2 separate regions of the Homo sapiens genome follow, and region 1 is reported to be linked to region 2. Evidence: microRNA targets listed by miRTarBase, many of them from high-throughput screens and not tested one by one. Region 2 holds a microRNA gene; the other region holds the end of a gene's coding sequence.
The links. The annotated mature microRNA hsa-miR-4774-5p reads UCUGGUAUGUAGUAGGUAAUAA and lies in region 2 at 1,392-1,413, opposite strand. An mRNA with a match to its seed (bases 2 to 7 or 8) in the 3' UTR can be bound and repressed. Matches are read on the target gene's strand: a 7mer-m8 pairs with bases 2 to 8, a 7mer-A1 pairs with bases 2 to 7 and ends in A, and an 8mer does both.

Region 1 (4,528 bases), not on the chromosome of region 2:
AGATGATTTTCAAAAATGGCAGTATCCACTGAAGAAAAAGCCAGTGACTTAAAAGTTTCTGGGCAACCTTATTTATGGTTGTCGTAATCATGGAAAATCTCCAAACTCCAGTATTTGTAGTTTTTTTTCCATCTGTTACTATGAGAGCAACCTAGGAGCCCTTTAGAAAGGCATTAATGGCTGGGCCCAGTGGCTTATGCCTGTAATCCCAGCACTTTGGGAGGCCGAGGCAGGCAAATCACTAGGTCAGGAGTTCGAGACCAGCCTGGCCAACATGGTGAAACCCCATCTCTACTGAAAATAAAAAATTAGCCAGGCGCAGTGGCACACGCCTGTAATCCCAGCTACTTGGGAGGCTGAGGCAGGAGAATTGCTTGAACCTGGGAGGCAGAGGTTGCAGTGAGCCGAGATCACGCCATTGCACTCCAGCTCTAGGCTAGAGGTAGACTCTGTCTCGGGGTGAAAGAAAGGCATTAATACTGGCAACCTAGCATTTGTCATTTTTCCAGAATATTCCCTGTACTCCCTGGCAGACCTCTGTTCCTGAAAAAAATCCAGTTGTTTGCTGTCCTCACCCCTTTGTCTTCTTTTTCATATCCTTCTTCTTTTGCCTCAGTTTCCCTGCTTAAATTTGATCTTTTCCTTGCTCACAAGAATTAAAGACACAAGCACATAGAGCACAGAAAGTTCTAGTTCTCTGTATGTAGCCAGCCTACTCAAACCACAGCTAACCAGGCTCTAGAGGTGAGGCCCTGAGGAGGGAACCCCAGGAATAAAAATACAGAGCAGGCTATTTCGGAGATGCCCTCCAAGAACACTGGTGTGTGAGGCAGGTGGGAAACTTAAGTGAGGTGACGAGGTGCTCTTTCCTTCTCTGCTGGTGCTGCTTCTGCTGCCACCAGCGCCCACTCCTCCTCCCTACCCGTGGGCAGCACAGGGTGTGTGACAGCAGGCCACATCCCAGAGCCCACCCCTCTCATGTCTCTGTTTCCTTGCAGGCCCTTTGGACAGGCACTTCGGCCCCTCCTGGACTCCATTCAGATCCAGCCTCCAGGAGGGAGCTCCGTGGGCAGACCCAACGGCCAGAGCTAACAGGACTGCCTGGGACCGCCCTGCCTCACCAGGGCTTTTCCTTTTTAAACAAAACAAACCCTACCAGATTTCTATTTTATAATTTTACATCAGAGCTAACAACCAGGGGACGGCTTTTTAAATTTCCCAGGGAAGGAGACCGTCAGGCCGCATGTAGACAATGCTGCTAAGAAACAGAACAAAATGCCACCCCTTCTAATAGTATTATACTAATTTATTAAGGCTGTCTTGTCTGTGCGTTCACTTCGGATGCTGTTTCCTAAGCGTCCTCCACACTGGAGAAAGGGAGGGGCTTTGTTTAAACAGAAAGCGAGTCACAGTTTGCGGGAGCCCCAACCTAGAACTCTTTCCAGAGAACACTCACGCTCTACCCAAGTTGCCAACACCTGTGGGACCCAGGTGAGTTTTAGAACATCCGTGACCCAGAAAGTTACTCTAGTGTTAAATGAACCAAAGGATTTGGTGTACATGGGACCGGTTTCAGGATGACTAACCTAACCTAAGTGAACTCTTTAGCCACAACCCTCACCTTCCCTCCCTTACCCCAAGCAAGGCCAGTGCTGGAGCAGCCATTGCCTCCGGATCAAGGGAGTAACAGCAAGTATCAGGCCGGAGAAAACAGGATAAAGCCATTCCTCCTTCCACCTAGATGGATTGCCAATCTTCTGCCATCAATTTTGGGAAACCTGCCTTTGTGCCCCCGAGGCTGCCTTTCCTCAGCATAGCTGACTTGTCATAGTGGATGAGGTCTGGGCTGGAGCAGTAGAAGCCAAGGCCTTTTTTCTGCAAGTAATGATGTAGGTTATTTGCAGTCTCTGTAACCACCATCCAGGCCAGTACGCAGTATTTAGCTGGGGACCAAGGGATGGGATTCCCTACTCTAAGAAAATACCTTTATTTTAATTATTATTATTTTTTGAGACGGAGTCTCGCTCTACCACCCAGGCTGGTGTGCAGTGGCATGATCTCGGCTCACAGAAACCTCTGCCTCCCGGGTTCAAGTGGTTCTCCTGCCTCAGCCTCCTGAGTAGCTGGGATTACAGGTGCGTGCCACCACGCCAGGCTAATTTTTGTATTTTCAGTAGAGACAGGGTTTTGCCATGTTGGCCAGGCTGGTCTGGAACTCCTGACCTCGGGTGATCCACCTCCCTTGGCCTCCCAAAGTGCTGGGATTACAGGCGTGAGCCACCGCTGCCTGGCCAGAAAATACCTTTGATATGGAAAGAATAATGATGTGAGGCCTGGCGCGGTGGCTCACGCCTGTAATCCCAGCACTTTGGGAGGCCGAGGCAGGCAGATCACTTGAGGTCAGGACTTCAAGACCAGCCTGGCCAACATGGTGAAACCCCGTCTCTACTAAAAATACAAAATTAGCCGGGCATGGTGGCGCATGCCTGTAGTCCCAGCTACTCGGGAGGCTGAGGCAGGAGAATCGCTTGAACCCGGGAGGCAGAGATTGCGATGAGCCGAGATCGTACCAGTGCACTCCAGCCTGGGCGACAGAGTGAGACTCCATCTCAAAAAAATAAAATAATGAAGTGGAATCAAGGTGGCAAGAAAATTTAGAATCGTTTCTGATAGGGACTTTCCCTTATCCTAAATGTGTTTTGAAGGCACACGTTATTTCCATTGTCATTCTGACTTTAGAAAGGCAGGTTGGGGCATGAGTGGGCATTTTCCTAATGACTTGCTGCTAGGAGGTTATAGGCAGGGAACAGTCTGGGAGTCTCTAATCCAGAGAGACTTTCAGATTCCCTCTCTTCACATGAACCTCCATTAGTTAGATTTTGGGAAAGTGAGCATGAAGAAGGGACTCAGAGCTGCCAGGTACCCGAGTCTCAGGTCTGACATCCTTGGGCCCCTTCTGCCACAACTTCTTGCCACTTCACGGACTTGAATTATGTTGCTTCTTCCTGGAAGTCTGGCCTGCAGCACAGGCCTTTCCTCTCCAAAAAGCTGCTGCTCATTTCTGGCCCCATCTGCTGCTATCTTTGCCATCAGCCATCACAGTTTGGCATCATCAGAGTCTCAGCTAGAGGAGCTGTCATTCTGCCTTAGTGTTTGCCTGCGACCTGACCAGGGGCATGACCAGCTGGGATGTCAAGTGACATTTGGGAACTTGTAGAGGCCAAATGATTGAAAGTTTAATTCTTCTCAAGACCCACTGATTTGCCAGTGTGCATGGAAATAATAGATTAGAGCAGAAACTAGCAGGGACTGTTGTATAATCGTGATCTACTAGCAGAATTGGGCCCAAAGAGAAAGAATTTCTGAGGCTGGGTTTCTTCTGGGAGGGTAGCAGGTTGGTCTTGGCCAGTGCTCTGTTTCCCACCAGTGTTGTTCCCTTTTCCAGCTTGCCTGGCCCGGCTCTGTCTTCCAGGGTCCTGCTCCAGACCCCTCTGCCTGGGGTCTCCCCTCCATCCAGGGGGTTCTGGGCATCACAGCTCCTTTTTTTCCTTTCTCCTCTTCCAGATCCAGTTTCAGCTGGTTTGCTTCTTCCAGCAGGCACCCTTAGGCCCAGGAGCAGCTCCCCTGAGAGAATTTGAGTCACTCATTTCCTTGAACAGCACCCCCCTTTATACTAGCAGCCATTTGTGCCATTGCCTGTGCCCTAGGGTTTGTGGGGAGAGAGCGAGGGATCACTGAGCAGTTTTCCCAGAGCTCCATGGGAAGGCAAGCTCTCCCTCCCAATGGGAGCCCCACTGTCACTAACTGTAAACTCAGGCTCAGGCTTCAACTGCCTACCCCCATCCTCATATTTCTGTCTGTCCCAGCACCTCAGGAGCATTCTCATTGTGGCCGGCTAACTCCGCCTGGATGTGAACAGGCAAGCACAGTGGGAAATGAGTCACGTACTTGTATTGCACAGTGGACACCTCTAGAGGTCCATTGGTTTAAAGGGATAGGGAAGGAGGAGGGATGAGACCATCACCCCCTCCCAGAAGTAAATCTAGTATCTGAGTTTTCTTTATGCCCTTGAGTCAAACTAATAACTGTCTAGTACGGAGGTGTTTGCTGGTTTTCTTCGGTGTTTTTTCTAATGCAATAAACTCATTTCTGCCTGCTGCATTTGTGTGGTGCCTGAATCAGGTCTGCACATGCATCCAACATGAAGCGACCCCAGGCTTTTGGGTCCCTTGGAGCTTAAGTCTGCGGGGTCTGGATGTGTCTCCTTTGCATGGTTGTGAGCCTGTAGATAAGAAGTGATAACAGGGAAGGATGTCTGAATTTCACCACTGGTTTATAAAGATGGGGGAAGGGCCCAGAGAGAATATCACTTGCCCAAGGTCACCTTGCAGCTGGTGCAGCTCAATGCTTTGTCTGATAACTTCAAATTCTGTAGTCTTCCTCTAGCTATCAGGAGTGTCTGACCTCACCGAAAAGTGTTCACTTCTACTTTCAACTTGGCTCTAGGTTGGGTCTGTGGCTCCTCATG
Region 2 (4,000 bases):
CTGAAAAACCAACAGCAAAAGGTTTGTTAATTTCCACAGAGGGGTATCACGCAAACAGCAAAAACATGGGAATTGAGAAACCTAAAAAACATTTTTCTTTTAAAGATACAGTTTCACTGCAGCTCACTGGCAGTATTCATTATGTCTGTGACTCAGCTATAAAAAAGGAATGAGCAATACCTGCATCTTTGGAGAAAGTTAATCTTAAAAGCAGCTTTGATTACTTAGGAAATTACTTAGGAAGCATAGGCATTAGGGCCAGTCACACACAGATCCTGACTCTCACTACCTATCGTGGGTAAACTGCTTAACCTTTTGAAAATTAGGGTAAAATCATCTACCCAATGAGAGTGTTGGAAGGATTAAATAAGATGACTAAGGAAGCGATCTTGGTACATTCTAAGTATTCAGTACATGTCAGTACATGTCAGATGCTGTCATGATGGCAAAAGGCCAGGTCATGATGGCAAAAGGCCATTACAATAATCGCCAAACAGAGAATATTCACAAGGCCTCGAAAAGCAGCCAGCACAGAGTCAGCATTCATTTTATTGAATGATAGAATGAATTCCATATCCATGGATGACAAATAATGATACATCAGAGCAGGAAGGCAAATAAAATTACAGGAATAAATGGACCCTGTAGCCTTTCAACTAACTACAAACTCCAGACAACCTAGTCCTCTAAAGGTCCTGCTTCATGCTCATTATCTTCTTCTCATAGTTCAAACAACCCTGACAATATTAAGGGATGGCATTTTAAAATTATTCTCTAAAAGCCTAATGACTGGTTTGGTCTAAGACCCAGGGAGGCCACCCAAGAGGCCTGAGCTCATAGCATGTGGTTAAACTGCAATCTACTCCTCAAATTCGAAAGAGAAAGCAAATGAAAAAGAAGCAAGGAAAGCTAAAAAGATTCTGTAGTTGGCTGAAAAATGATCTATAGTTAGGCTTTGCCCCTATCCAAATCAGAGTGGGGCTGTTTCTTGAATGTCAGAACTGAAGTGTCTTCTTCTCTCACACTTTTCTTAGCTCATTTCCCAATCACTTTCTTGGTGGAGTCTCTCTTTGCCAAAAGGACATGCCCGTCAATCAACACACACTACTTATTTGTACCTGTCTCGACGCCCTCCCCATCACTATCTATTCCTACACCACACTGTCATTAGTGCATATTTCTAAGGTTCAAAATTTTACAAGATTCTTGTCCTATAAGAGCGATTTTCTGCTTAACACTACCAAATTGATCAGTCTGTGCTGTGTATATCAACCATTCCCTCAAGCCAGCCAAATTTGATTAAATGTACATTTGTCTATGCATTATTTTGTAACTGCAAGCCTTGCCTATGTTGTTTTCTGGCACATGTTAGGCAATTGTCTGTTTGTCAGTTATTACCTACTACATACCAGACAACAATATAGGCTAATCTATAGCTTTCATGTCTTTCAAAGGCCATGCCCATCAAGGCCCCTCTATACCATAACTGTACACTGTGGGTGCTTGGGAAGGATGGCTATTTCACTGGCTCACTATGAAATCACCAGCTATTTCACTAGCTCACTGTGAATCCAGGCACCTAAAGCTGTTGTATGTATGCAATTTCAGTAAACTGCAGCAGTCAAATTTGGGAATTGCACTGGACACAAGGTCAAACTGACCTTGTTTAACTTCACATCAATATTAAAATAATGCATCACGTAAAATAAAGGTGTATGAAAATTCTAGTTTTCAAAATCCTGACTGACCACATTTGAAACCTTATGTTTGCATAGCACGCGTTTTTTTTTCAGTACTAGATGATAGTTATTAAATGATTTAAGGTCTTATTAATACTTCCTTTCCCAGACACAGCAGGCTAGGCTAGTCAGACAAACCCCTTGCTCTCTATTTAAAACAACTAAACTTCTCAACTTAAAAAATATCCTTAAAAGCATCAGAGGTGACAAGATAGTAAGAAGCTCTCAGGATAAAAATCTAAGGGAAACTAGGAACCCAGAGACCTAAGTAGAACACCACAGCTCCTTCTGGCCCAAAGGCATCTCCACCATGAGTTAATCTGGGTTTCTGTTTTGGCAGCCCCTGGAGGAAAGGGGGAAGAATCTAGGCCCAGTGCCTACCTAATGTGGAGGATATTATAGAAGACACTGCGCATATTAAGCTGGGACCCCAAGATATAACATCCATAGGATGAGTGTGTGCCATACATAAACCCTACCTCTACCCCCAATTCTGGGAAACTTCAGGGATGGTTGCCTTGACACTAAGCAGAAGAAGAGAAAAAGGGAAAGGAAAATAACACCATGAGAAGTTGTGGTAAGAGACCCACAACTGTGATCATGACCAAGGTGGTTACGGTCATGGGGAGTTAGCCCAGGTGGGCCTGGGAGTCATGGTAAGTCATGTGCTTGGTCTGGGGTGATCCTGGGCTGGGGTATCGTCCATGCCGGACAGGAGCATAAGCATAAACTCTCTGAGAGAATCATCATCTTCCTAGGCCTCAAGATTCTCCCTCCTTAATATTTCCTAAGAACAAAGAGTAGTACACAATTAAGCACACAAGGAAAAACAGGTTCCATGAATCAGAATCAGAAACACACCCGCAAATACTGGAACTGTCAAATACAGATTGTAAAACAACTATGCTTCCCCTATGTAAAAAAATAAAAGACCACATAAAAAGTATCTGCAAAGAACAGGAAACTATGAAAACTGAACAAGCAGGTTTTTAAAAGATGAAACAGAACTTTTATAAATAAAAATATATATTAACCAAACTAAAAACTAGAAGGAGAAGATAATAAACAGAAATAGTTAAAAGGGAATTAGTGATTTGAAAGATATGTCAGATGACATCTAACATATGGCCAGAGAAACAGAAACAATGAACAACATGGAAGGGAAGTTAGAACTCATGAGGGTAGTGAGAGGATCTAAAATACATTTAACTGTAATTACAGAAAACGAAAATAGTGAGAGTAGAGAAGCAGCAATATTTAAAGAAGTAATGACTGAGAATTTTCCAGAACTGATAAAGATAGCAATTGGGCCAGGCATGGTGGCTCACGCCTGTAATCCCAGCACTTTGGGAGGCCAAAGCAGGTGGATCACTACAGGTCAGCAGTTCAAGACCAGCATGACCAACATGGTGAAACACTGTCTCTACTAAAAATATAAAAGTTAGCCAGGTGTAGTGGCACTCACCTGTAATCCCAGCTACTTGGGAAGCTGAGGCAGGAGAATTGCTTGAGCCTGGGAGGCAGAGGTTGCAGTGAGCCAAGATTGCACCACTGCACTCCAGCCTGGGTGACAGAGTAAGACTCCATCTCAAAAAAAAAAAAAAGATAGCAATCCATAGATTCATAGATTTAAGAAGGCCCAGAGAATCTCGAGAGGAATACATATATTTTTAATTGCAATACAGAAAGACAAAGACTAAGGGGAAAATCTTGAAGCCTACAGGGATAAAAAGGGCATTATCTTCAAAGGAATGACAGAGTGACTATGGCTTCTCTGTGGCAAGCATGTAAGCAAGAAGACAGTGCGATGATATAATCATTATACTGAAAGGAAATAACTGCTAGACTAGAATTCTATACTCAGAGAAAAAATCTTCAAGAATGAGGAAGAAATAAACTCATTTTCAGACAACAAAAACCAAGAGATTTCATCTCTAGCAGGCCTCAAGGATCTTCAGACAAAAATTAAAGTGATTCCAAATGGAAGGTCTGGGTACAAAAATGAATTAAAAACAAAAAAAGTGGTAAATATGTGTGCAAATCTTTAAAAAATTGTCTCTGTTGTTTAAGGTTAATAATGTCTCTAAGATTAAAAATACAGAATAAAAGGCATGACAAAAGTAACTTAAGTCAGAAGAGGGAACATGGAAATAAAATACTCTAAACACCTTGGATTTTCTAGGAGGGTAAAAGAGGGGTCAACATTGGATTTTGATAACTTAGGTATACCCGTTGTAATTTCTAGGATAACCACCAAAATA

Region 1: the mRNA of DESI1 is a reported target of hsa-miR-4774-5p. Seed matches in the 3' UTR shown: 7mer-A1 at 1,154-1,160.

What each region holds. Positions count from the first base shown.
Region 1 is chr22:41,597,661-41,602,188 of GRCh38, reverse strand. It overlaps DESI1 (desumoylating isopeptidase 1), which reads left to right. Exons shown (of 6, transcript NM_015704.3): 6 at 999-4,161. The coding sequence ends at 1,092. Among named protein-coding and RNA genes, the nearest start is that of PMM1, 10 kb to the right of the region's middle.
Region 2 is chr2:168,580,366-168,584,365 of GRCh38, reverse strand. MIR4774 (microRNA 4774) reads right to left here and starts at 1,423; the gene lies at 1,348-1,423. The region is part of intron 3 of CERS6 (ceramide synthase 6); the gene reads right to left.